3 linked regions of the Homo sapiens genome follow. The protein of the gene in region 2 interacts with the protein of the main gene of each other region in a pairwise test. Each region holds a gene or a part of one and is shown on either strand. Other genes may lie near its edges. The genes, in order: NFYC, KLF15 and HNRNPF.

The links.
Region 1: the proteins of KLF15 (region 2) and NFYC interact in binary tests that used the Homo sapiens proteins (3 or more experiments, as listed by UniProt).
Region 3: the proteins of KLF15 (region 2) and HNRNPF interact in binary tests that used the Homo sapiens proteins (3 or more experiments, as listed by UniProt).

The regions. Positions count from the first base shown.
Region 1 is NC_000001.11:40,743,647-40,747,394, reverse strand, and holds part of NFYC (nuclear transcription factor Y subunit gamma), read right to left. Parts: intron 1-3,748. UniProt on the Homo sapiens protein: Component of the sequence-specific heterotrimeric transcription factor (NF-Y) which specifically recognizes a 5'-CCAAT-3' box motif found in the promoters of its target genes.
Region 2 is NC_000003.12:126,355,346-126,359,093, reverse strand, and holds the start of KLF15 (Krueppel-like factor 15), read left to right. Parts: upstream 1-1,685; 5' UTR 1,686-1,857; exon of another isoform or gene 1,858-1,987; coding exon of another isoform or gene 1,988-2,019; intron 2,020-3,748. UniProt on the Homo sapiens protein: Transcriptional regulator that binds to the GA element of the CLCNKA promoter. Binds to the KCNIP2 promoter and regulates KCNIP2 circadian expression in the heart. Is a repressor of CCN2 expression, involved in the control of cardiac fibrosis.
Region 3 is NC_000010.11:43,388,521-43,392,268, forward strand, and holds part of HNRNPF (heterogeneous nuclear ribonucleoprotein F), read right to left. Parts: intron 1-3,748.

The sequences.
Region 1 (3,748 bases), on a different chromosome or scaffold from region 2:
AGAAAATACAAGCTCCAGAGCAAAATTCTTCTTTACTTAACATATGCAGGTCTTCAAAGAATTAATGGGCTTTAGAAAAAGCTTAGGATGGCCTCTAACAGTGCTCTCATGAAACACAGCCCCAAGCAATATCTGTTTTTTTTTTTTTTTCGTCAGCACAACATAGAGGGACATTATGAGCGCCTTCTTTTTTTTTCCAAGTAAGTTTACCAGTCTGCAATATGCAGATTAAAATGAGATTTCTGTCTCAGGGGTATTCCTCTAAACTGCCAGTTCTTTCTTCCATTCAGTGACCAAACTAACAGCAACGCCGGGGCACTTGACCACAGTGATCCACAGTTCTTTACAACTGATAGTGGCCATTTCTGACATTTGCACTAACCTGACAACAGAAACTGGGGAGGAGAGCTCCTTTCTCATCACAGTAGCAATGGCCTTGTCTCCAAAATTTGTTTCAAGTGGGGGTAGAGGAGTATAGAAAAAGGATGAGGGTGAATTTGTCAGCTGCCTTTTAGGAACAGCTGTGTTATTTTTTCTTAACAAGCCTGGAGTGGGGGAGGACCATATAACTTCACTGTGGATATAGTTTAGGAAAGGGCTTTTTTGATCAGCACTACTCAATAATTTGAGACTTAAGCCCTTTTTTGTTTTATTTTGAAACTACTGGTATTTAAACACATGCCCAATGATGGATGCAATTCTAGGAAAAAAATCAATTTTGAGTTTCAGAGCTGCAATGAAGAGGAAGGTGCAAAGGCAGATATTAGCTAAAATCAGCAAAATCTCTACTGGGACTAGGTGTCAAATGATTGATTCTATAAGTGGTCTGAAATGTGACTCACTAAACCTAATATGCTCACCTGGGAATTTGCATCATCACATTATGGAAGGAGCATATATTATTTCAGATTTGATGTAATTAACAAGCATAAGTGAACTTTCTTTTGCAAGACCAACAGAAAATCTCAAATATATGTCAAAAAAAGGTATTTTGGAAAAACATCAACAGTCTTCCCAGAACCTATTTTATGATTATAGAAAGAAGAGAATCTATTAGGATAAAATGTACACCAAGACATCTAATTTTTCCATGCAAACCCAACAAGCTGCTTGGCTACCACTCTGCTCTACAAACTTCAAACACCAATTTTTCATCTTTTCCTTTTCCAAATTAGGTATCAACATTTTCCATGAACCCTCTACTAAAACTAACCCTGGAGTAACAGAGACTTAGAAGTTCAGTTTATTAAAATTTCAACAAAAGGAAACAGTAGCGCAGGTTCATTCTATTCTTGTTTTTCCCCTTGCTCTTTCATTTACTGATTCAAGCAACTCAACTAATAGTAAATGTATGATACCTACTACTATGCAAAAAATACACATGTAGGCCAGGCATGGTGGCTCATGCCTGTAATCCCAGCACTCTGGAAGGCTGAGATGGGAGAATCGCTTGAGGCCAGGAGTTTGAGACCAGTCTGGTCAACATAGTGAGACCCCATCACTATTTAAAAAAGAAAGAAAAAAAATACACATCTACTCCTACCTTTGAAGAGCTTGTGGTTTGTCAGAGATAGTCACATAAAAACATTATAATCCCCTACCCAATACTGGAGGGGAGGGATCCCCTGCGGGGACACAAAGAAGGACATATTGCTAGGGACAGCTAGCAATGTGGGGCTGGAGGGAGAGTGAGGGATTGGGAAATGTTCCACAAAGGGGATGACATCTGAATTGTGTCTAAGGGATGCTGGGAATTTGCCTGTTGAAAAAGTATGAGAATGTTATTCAGACAGAACAACAAAGACAGAGAGAGAGACAAAAAATCACAGCCTATTTAAGTTTTAGATCTACTACCTGAGTATAGAGGGGAAAAGCAGGAAAGAGGATACTGGGTTGGGGCCAGATCCTAAAGAGTTTTTTTAAAAGTTTAATCCCAGAAATCAACCACTGGTCTTCCTTCTTGTGTGGCATATCACAGAAGATGATGACACTACATAGAAATGCCAAAGAGAATGCTAGGGATGATCATTCCTTTGGAAAACCTCCCAGGCTAATACATACAGCACAAGATGATCATACATTTAGCTCTCTTGCAAGTGTGCTCTTGTTTGGCTTGGTTTTAAATATAATTTGTACAAGAACGTTCCATGATTACTTAACTAAAGCCCAAAGTTGATAAAAAAGACCTCTTTCCCCAAATTGAAAGAGTAAACTATTACTCCTTCAATTTCTCTTCTTTAATCAAAAGCAACAAAAGTCAAGGATCAAGAGATCATTCCCGCCTTGCAGAGATGTAAAATGAGGCAGAAATTTATAATAAGCTCTGCTTTAATCCCCTTCCCAAAGCTTTTCTTTGTGACAAACTATTTTTTCATGTTCCTGAAACCTTGAGATCTCAAGAAGCAGTGTGTAAAAGTGGATCTTGAGGGGTGTGTATGGTTCATCCCTGTTGACAATCACCCAGTTTTCTATAATCCTATCCTAGCCTTCTAGTTACATGTAAGGATTTACCATAAGCTTGTTGGAAAAGGGAGGCCCTCTACAATCAGTAGATTGAGGCCCACGAAACTTGGATTCATGCTCCCCACTTCACTAGCTACCATGTAACTGAAGTGAGTAACATTTAACTCCTTAACTCCTTCTCCTGATACTGATTCAACTGGAAGAACAGCTGACACACACTGCTCCCCCCTACTTTTGGGAGTTCTATCAGTAAGGCAGAAGAGCAGATTATCTCTCAGAACATTCTCATGCTCCTGACCACTACCAAAGAACTACGTTAAAAATGCTTCCATCTGAAACTGCTGCATTTCAAGACAAATTCAAATCTGAATTCACTCAATGAGAGTTTGGAGACAAAGAAAAGTCAACAGATCTTGGGCTGCACTGAAGAACATCCAGAGTTTCAAATAATAAAGAGAAACCTTTTCCAGGCCTACCCAGTCAGGCACTCTGGCAAGTCAAGATTCTCAACCCTTTGAAATCAATGATTCTCAATCTTGGGGCTGCAGGTTAGAATCACCTGAAAAGCTTTTGAAAAACAAGATGCCTGAGCTCTCTCCTGGAGACCAACTGAATCAGGAACTCTAGGACAGTGGTCCCCAACCTCAGGAACCAGTTTTGTGCAAGACAATTTTTCCAGAGATGGGCAGGGTGGGCATTAGATTCTCATAAGGAGTGTGCTACCTAGATCCCTCACATGCGCAGTTCATGATAGGGTTCACATTCCTTTGAGAATCTAATGCCACTGCTGATCTGACAGGAGGTGGAGCTCAGGCAGTAATGCTTGCTTACTGGCTGCTCACCTCCTGCTGTGCAGCCCAGTTCCTAGGTTCCTAACAGGCCATGGACCCATACCGGTCTGTGGCCCAGGGGTTGGGGACCCCTGCTCTAGTGGGTAGAGTACTGGCATCATGTTTTTTGAAAACTCCCCTTGTGACTATGATCCAAGTGAGAGTTAAGGACTACTGTTTTACGGCCCTGCTACTCAAAGTAAGGTCCTTGGACCAGCAATGGTATCACCTGGGAACTCAAAAGAAACACAGAATCCCAGGTTCCGTTCCTAACCTACTAAATCAGCATCAATATTTTAAGAAGATCCTCCCTCACGTGGTTCATACAGACAATAAAGTTTGAGAAGCACTGCTCTACAGAAAGGGCTCACACAGCACAGGACCTGTTTTGTAACAGTCCACCAACCTTCATCACCAAGTTCTTGTTTAAACAGTTATCTGATTTGATTGTAATG
Region 2 (3,748 bases):
CTCAGGTTTTAACAGGACCATCTTGGCTGTTCTCCAGTTTCTAGCCAGTGGGGCCTCCTCCCTGTGTGCTGAAGGTGCTAACGATGTGTCTTTGCTTCCAAGCTTTTTCTGACCTTTTGCTGCAGCTTTCACCAAGGAGATGGGAGGCACTAGACTGAGAGTATGTGAGGAGTGAAGACCGAGGGCGGGCAGGGCAGATGGAGAAGTGCTGTGGCTATGCCCAATCCAGACCTGCACTGAGACAAAATGAGGAATACAGGCCTCTATCTCTTCTCTTATGAAAATGGACAAATTCCACTGTTCTGCCCAGGCTAGCCAGGGCTGCTGTAATGCCAGAGTGGTCATTCCAACTTCTGTGAACTAGAAAGCCTCTCACCATCCTCAACACAAATGTCCTTAAAGCCCTCTGGCAACGCATTGGTTTGGCTCCTAGTGGCAGCAGCAGCTGAATCCCTGGCACTGACCTGGTGCACAGTGTCCCCAGATCCCTGGTCAAGCAAGCCTAGACCTATAGCATTCCAGAGAGCCTGGAAAGGGTATGGTTAAAAATTCCTGTTCTAGCAATGTCTTCAAGAAGAAGCAGGAGAAAATGCTCCCCACCTCCCAGTGCCAGGAGGGGAGAGGAAGGAAGCTCAGTAGGACAGCTCTGCACAGGTGGCCTGGGGGTGTCTGCAAGATGACCTGGCTCTACCTCTCTACCTGCTCCTTCCCAGCTGTGGGGCTGGGGAGGGCTGGTGCCCTCTCTGAGTCGGTTTCTTCATCTGTAAAGTGCTTGGCTGAGGATCCAGCTGGAGTGTGGATTAAAGGGCACAGCAGGGTGCCTAGCACCGTCAGCCCACGTGTTTTTCTTGGGCAAGCCACTCTGAGCCTTACTCTTCCTGTCTCTAAGCGGGAACCCAAATGCGAGCCAGGATTGCTGCGGACTAAAGCAGTCTACGAACGCTTTTGTAGACTGCGAAGCATTGTTTGGTCTTCAGAAAGGTGCCCCAGAGACAAGGTGTCATTGGTTTCAGGTGGGGGGGGGGGGGGCCGGTCAGCAAACCTCCTTAGTCCTGGAGGGCAGGGTGGCAGCGCAGAGCGCGCGCAATTTCCGGAGGGTAACTGATTGTCCTGCTGAAAGCCCAATACCGTATTTATCCAAAAATACGTCCTTCTAGGCAAGTGATTTATCTGACACTCAGCGGGGGACAGAGCTGCTTGTACCGCGCTGGGGATGAAGGTGGGGACGTGGGCCAGACCGGGCCAGACAGGCTCCCCAGCGCTTCCCGCTCAATCACGCAGACTGCACTTTGGGGCGATCTCAGAGCTTTTCTTAAGTCTTCAGGCCAGTCTCACGTTCTCACCTTGGGAACCGAGCTTTAGAAGCCGGCCCTCGTGGACGCCGCGAGACAGCGGCGAGAGGTGGGAAGCAAGGAGGTGGCTGCGGGCCAGGGACCAGGCAGCGTGTTGGGGGGCGTGCGCGTCTGGCAGCTCCGGGATCCCCGAGCATCCGCCGCTCAAGTCCGGGAGCCGCGCGGGCGGGCCGGGGCGGGGCCAGGGCGGGGCCAGGGCGGGGCGGGACGTGTGACGCGCAGCGCGGGCCAATGGGGCGCGCGCCCGGGGCCGAGCCTCCTGCGAGCCTTCGCGGCGCCCGCTGCGTCACGTGAGCGGCGGGGAGTGAGTGCCCAGCGAGCTGCGGGCGGGCTAGTGCTCCGCCGCAGCGACCCGCGGGCCGGCGGGCGATCGAGCCAGCGCAGGACCCGCGGCTCGGCCCCCGGCCGCCGCCGGACCGAGAGTCTAGCCGCCGCCCCCAGCCCAGCCCGCCCGGCCGCAGGACCGCCGGGGCCTGGCCGCCGGTCCGGCGTGCGCCAAGTTCAGGTGGGAGAGGCGCGGCGGGGCCGGCCGGCCGCGTGGACGCGGCCCCGGGTGATCAGAGGGCTGGCCGGCCTCGGGGCGCGTGGCCGTGCTCCCGCGCAGCTCTCGGAGGCACCGCGCGAGTGCTGGAGGAATGTCGGAGGAGCGGGATGGGCCCCCGCGGAGGTGGGCAGGGGTCGGACTGGCCCGGGGGAGGTGACCCCCCCCGCCCCGGTCGCCCACCAGCACTTTGCTGAGGCCCGCGCCGCCGCCTCGGTGCCTGGCCGGGCGATTCCGTGGCGCGCCTTGCGGGCCGGCCCTCCCATATGGTGGGCACCGGCGCGGCCTGGTGAGAGGAGGGGGAGAGCGGACGCGCTGGCCAGCCCGGGGTTGGGGGGCGGAGGGGCTGGAGACGGAGGGGTTACTGTCGGTCACCGCAGCAGTGTCGGGGGCAAGGGGGGGGCGTGGGACGAGGGCATGGTGCCCAGCGGGCAGCGGTCCAGGACTCTAGAAGGGGTCTGAGCCGGCTCTCTTCATTTCCCACGCACGTTTCCCCTCACCCGCCGGCACCCACGGCGGCTCCACGCGCGAGTCCTTCGCGGACAGCCTCCCGCACAGCCACAGCGGCTGCCGCGCACCACGCCCCGCACACGCAGTCACACGACAGGAACTCACACCCCTTCACGCACACCCGCACCGTTCACGCGTCTCACTCCACGCTGAGTCCCCGTCCGCTCAGACCGAACATTACCAAAGCCATGGCCTGACCGAGGGATGGCGGCGGCGGGGCAGAGAGGCCGTCCCCATCCCATATGGTGGTCCGGTTCACTCTTCCCTCCCCGCCTTGGTGTTACTCATGGAACCCCCCTCTCACGGAGGGCACAGAGGGGCTGTTTTCTCCCACGGCCCTCGGAGGTGACAAAATCAACAATTGTTTGAGAGCCTCAAATCTCCTTCCCCCTGTCCCCCCGGACCAGGTGGCCCCTGGGGAGACCCTGCCGCCCTACAGGTGTGAGGACGCCCGGACTCTGCGACTTTGGGGCCTGCGGGCGGCTCAGGGACCGGAGACTCTTATTTTGAAGGACAGCCCCCGCCGCCACCCCCGTGATTTGCACGCTGACCCAATGGCAAGCCCTTGGCCGGCGCTGGGCTTGTTATCAATTACATGTTGTTCCTGCAGCCGCTGTGTCCCCGGGAGGATAAACAGCAGGCCTGGCCGGGCCAGGGGAGGGGGCGGAGTCCGGCGGCCAGCCGGGGACTGTGCCCGGAACAGCGTGTCCCCTCCCCCTGCACGCAGCCTGCGCCTCTGGCCGCCCCACGTGCTGCTGTGTTTCAGGGGCCGAGCCAGCTCCAGCCCTAGAGTGTCCTCTCTTTAATGCCGGTGCCCTGGGACATCCCAGAGCCCTTTCTGGGTTGTCAGTGCCTGGGTGCTTCCCCCTTGGGACGTTCAGCCCAGCATTAAGACCCTGTTGGCTGACCTGGGCCACCCATTCCTACTCTCCGACCTCCCCCGCTCTCCCCCGCACCTTCCATTCACTCATTCAGCAAATTTTGCCCGGTCCTGTTTTAGACTCTGGGATATGGCCTTGGAGTGAACAGTCAGGACAGCTGATATTCTGATGGGAAGGTAGACAGGGAGGAAAGTTCACAAACACATCACCAAGATAGTTTCCCACAGTAGAAACTGCAGGGAAGAGTATAATATAGGATGATGTAACAGAGTGGGCCTGGAGGCCCCCACAGGGGTGACTTCTGAGCCGAGATCTAACTAAGCAGCTCCCACCTGCAGTGCTGGGGGAAGAGCCAGGGCAGTGGCCCCGGGCTGAGGCTGAAGTGAAGTGAGCACACCTGGACTAGAAGAGAGGCAGTTGGTGGTGAGGTCTGCAGAGAGTCCCAAGGGCCCAGGTGCTGGGCT
Region 3 (3,748 bases), on a different chromosome or scaffold from region 2:
AAACTAAATACCAGTCAAGTATGAGGCCAAACTGATGACATATACAGACAAGCAGACAAATTCACCAGCAGACTTAGTTATGTGCACTGCAAATAAATGGAGAAACCAGATCAGATGATTCACAGGTTCACATAAAATATAGCAGAATTGCTGCCTTGTGCTGAAGATCTGGAAGAGGGCATCGGGAAGAAAGGGCAATCGCAAGAGGGCTGAGAAATGCCCTTCCCACCAGGGTGGTACATGGCACCTGAAGTCCAAACTCAGAGTAAGGCCAACCACACACTGGAAGGCAGTCTTCTGAGAAAGAGGAGCAGCTGACCTAGACAGCAGGGTCTATAACATAGTCACAAGCAAGAAAAACACTGCAGTATCATGGGGCCAAAGACGTATTTTTATATGAACACTGTCAAGGGTGACGCTCAAAAAGAGCATAGGAGTATATGGAATTTTTTTTTTTTTTTTTTTTTTTGAGACAAGAGTCTCACTGTCGCCCAGGCTGGAGTGCAGTGGTGCTGTCTCGGCTCACTGCAACCTCCGCCTCCTGGGTTCACGAAATTCTCCTGTCTCAGCCTCCTGAGTAGCTGGGATTACATGCACCAGCCGCCACGCACGGCTAATTTTTTATACTTTTAGGAGATACGGGATTTCACCATGTTGGCGAGGTTGGTCTTGAACTCCTGACCTCAGGTGATCCGCCCACCTCAGCTGCCCAAAGTGCTGGAATTACTGGCGTGAGCCACCATGCACAGCTGGAAATCGAATGTTTCAAAGTGTCATTTTACATCAAGCATAATAGATATAGCTGGTGGCCTTTTCAAGAAATATGGGCTCATCATGTGGGGAAAAAAGCTCCATAAGAAAACCCCACAATTTAAAAAACAGACAAAAAGTAAAGGTAAGTGTAATTTAAGAAAAGGAAAAGCAAATTCATACTAAATAAATGCTCAACTGCACTAGCTTCAGGGAAAATTAGTAATTTTAAAGTTTGATGTAGCCATTGCAGATAATGACATATTATCATACAGTGCTTCATCATTTCAAATTGACAACGTCTAAAAGGATAATTGTGTAAATCTTTCAAATTTACCTGTGTCTACACCAGATTATAAAGATAACAAGATGTGTCTCCTCTCCCAATAACAAGCATAATGGCACAAATGAAACAGAACAGTATGTGATATCCTGAACACATCACCAAGACCAAACACTCGGCATTTACTCACGAACTGTGATTTGGAATGCAAGGGCTTTCAAAGTATACAGCCTAACTAAAAGATGTCACCCTTGCTAATGAGAGTGGAACATGGAAGCCTCTGGGAAGAGAGTCAAGGGGAGCCTAACCTGGATTGCTCATTGCCCACCTCAAATTATTGACTATGTACATAAACTCCATCAACTTTTATAAAATAATCCTGAACGGCAAATGATTGGGCATAAATAATCCTATCCCCAATTCTCAAACTGTGCTTTGGGTCTGCAACAAACCCTGGGGTTTAGCCTCCACCTTAGAAAGTAATGGTCTCCGCCTCCCCAGGGCCTTATCTAAATCCCCTGCATATGGCCACTGCAACATGCTGATCTGGCAGAGCAAGGTCACAGCAGATTCTTCCTCTCCTGTCCACGGAGGGAATTCTGTGCTAACAGTTCAGAAGCTCCTCCTTGGAGAGTCAGGGCAAGTTTGTATTGTGTCTCTTGGGATAATGGGTCTGGGACAGCTCAATTACAGGTGGGGGCTTCTTATGCAATTCCATTCCCAACACTGGGTCAGGCTAGGCACCGCCTGTCCTTTTGTCTTTGACCATACCCTGGTCTTGCTCCTCACTCATGAAAAGTATCTGAAGGCCTCCCTCGAGTTCTGTTCCTAGCCTTAGGTCCAGCCATCGTTCCGGGTAGGGGAGATGAAGCCATAATCCACTAACCATTTTCTCCTGGACTCCTACCTCCAATGATTTCACCATTCCCTGCAGGAAACCCCACCTAATCACATCCTACTCCCTCCACCACAACTGCTATCCCCCTCCTTTGTAGAGACCTTGGCTTCCTTATCCACACAGCCTCTTTCTCTCCTCATTCTTCATAATCCAGCTTAGAGCAAGTATCATTTTACATTCCTTCCTCACAATACATGGAATTCATTCAATGAACTTCTTAACTGTACGCGCCCAGTAAAACCAGAGCTCTGGAAGATTCCAAACAAATATCTGACTACTCCATGGATGTACTGAGTGGCTCAGCTGCACACAGCCAGGCGAAACGGTGCCTCTAAGCTACAATTTCTCAGCCTCAGGACTACTGACATTTTGGACCAGACAGTTCTTTGTGTTGTGGAGGCAGGCCCAGGCACTGTAGGATGTTTAGCTGCATCCCTGGTCTCTGCCCACTAGATGCCAGTAGCACCCTCCACCTCCAGTTCTGACAACCGAATGTCTCCAGACATTCCCAAATGTTCTCTGGTGGCTAATGCTGCCCCCAAGTTGTGAAATACTGTAGAAATCAGGGTGAGGCCAGGCACAGTGGCTCCCACCTATAATCCTAGCACTTTGGGAGGCCGAGGTGGGTGGGACCACTTGAGATCATGAGTTCCAATAGACAAAACCTCTGTCTCGACTAAAAATACAAAAAACTAGCCGGGCGTGATGGTGGGCACCTGTAGTCCCAGCTACTTGGGAGGCTGAGGCAGGAGCATCGCTTGAACCTGGGAGGCAGAGGTTGCAGTAAGCCAAGATCGCACCACTGCACTCCAGCCTGGGCGACAGTGCAAGACTCTGTCTCAAAAAAAAAAAAAAAATTACCTGGACGTGGTGGTGGGCGCCTGTAGTCCCAGCCACTACGGAGGCTGAGGCAAGAGAATCACCTGAACCCAGGAAGCGGAGTTTTCAGTGAGTGGAGATCGCACCATTGTACTCCAGCCCGGGTGACGGAGCGAGACTAACTCCAAAAAAAAACCCACCACACAAGAAAAAAAAAAGAAAATCAGAGTGAACAGCCATAGAGTAAGCGGGCCCTCAATATCGCCCACTGTCCTACCCCAGCACCCTGCTTGTCCAAAGCCCTTCAGATGTCTGGGGCAGCCTTACAGACTCTCACCTCCTCTCCAGCTGGTTGACATTACTCTTGGAAGTGGACTTTGTGAAGTCAAGTCAGAGTCCAGGAGTTTGTAAGCACGTAGTGGGCCCCTTACAGCGGACATCGTGAACAACAGCTCTGCTCTGGGTCCAACCTCACATACCCCGGAGCCATGCTTTCTTCTTTTTTTCCTTTTCCCCTTTCTCCACTGAGCCCTGTCTACTTGGTAATTAAACATGCTCAGTTCTACCCAATCATGTCATACCTCCCCTGTGCCAACTTTGCCTCTAGCTACTTGTTGATTTGTTCAGCAAAATCTTGTCAAAAGGCCTCTACTGTCACTTCCACTCCCCTCCATTAAAACTGCATGATCAAGGCCACGTGTGGTGGCTCACCGCCTGTAATCCCAGCACTTTAGGAGGTCAAGGAGGGTGGATAACCGGAGCCAGGAGTTCAAGACCAGCCTGACCAACATGGTGAAATCCCGCCTCTACCAAAAATACAAAAATTAGCCGAGCATAGTGGTGGACACCTAGGTTGAGCGCAGTGGCTCACGCCTGTAATCCCAGCACTTTGGGTGGCCAAGGCAGGCAGATCATTTGAGGTCAGGAGTTCCAGACCAGCCTAGCCAACATAGTGAAACCCTGTCTCTACTAAAAATACAGAAAAATTGGCCGGGCAC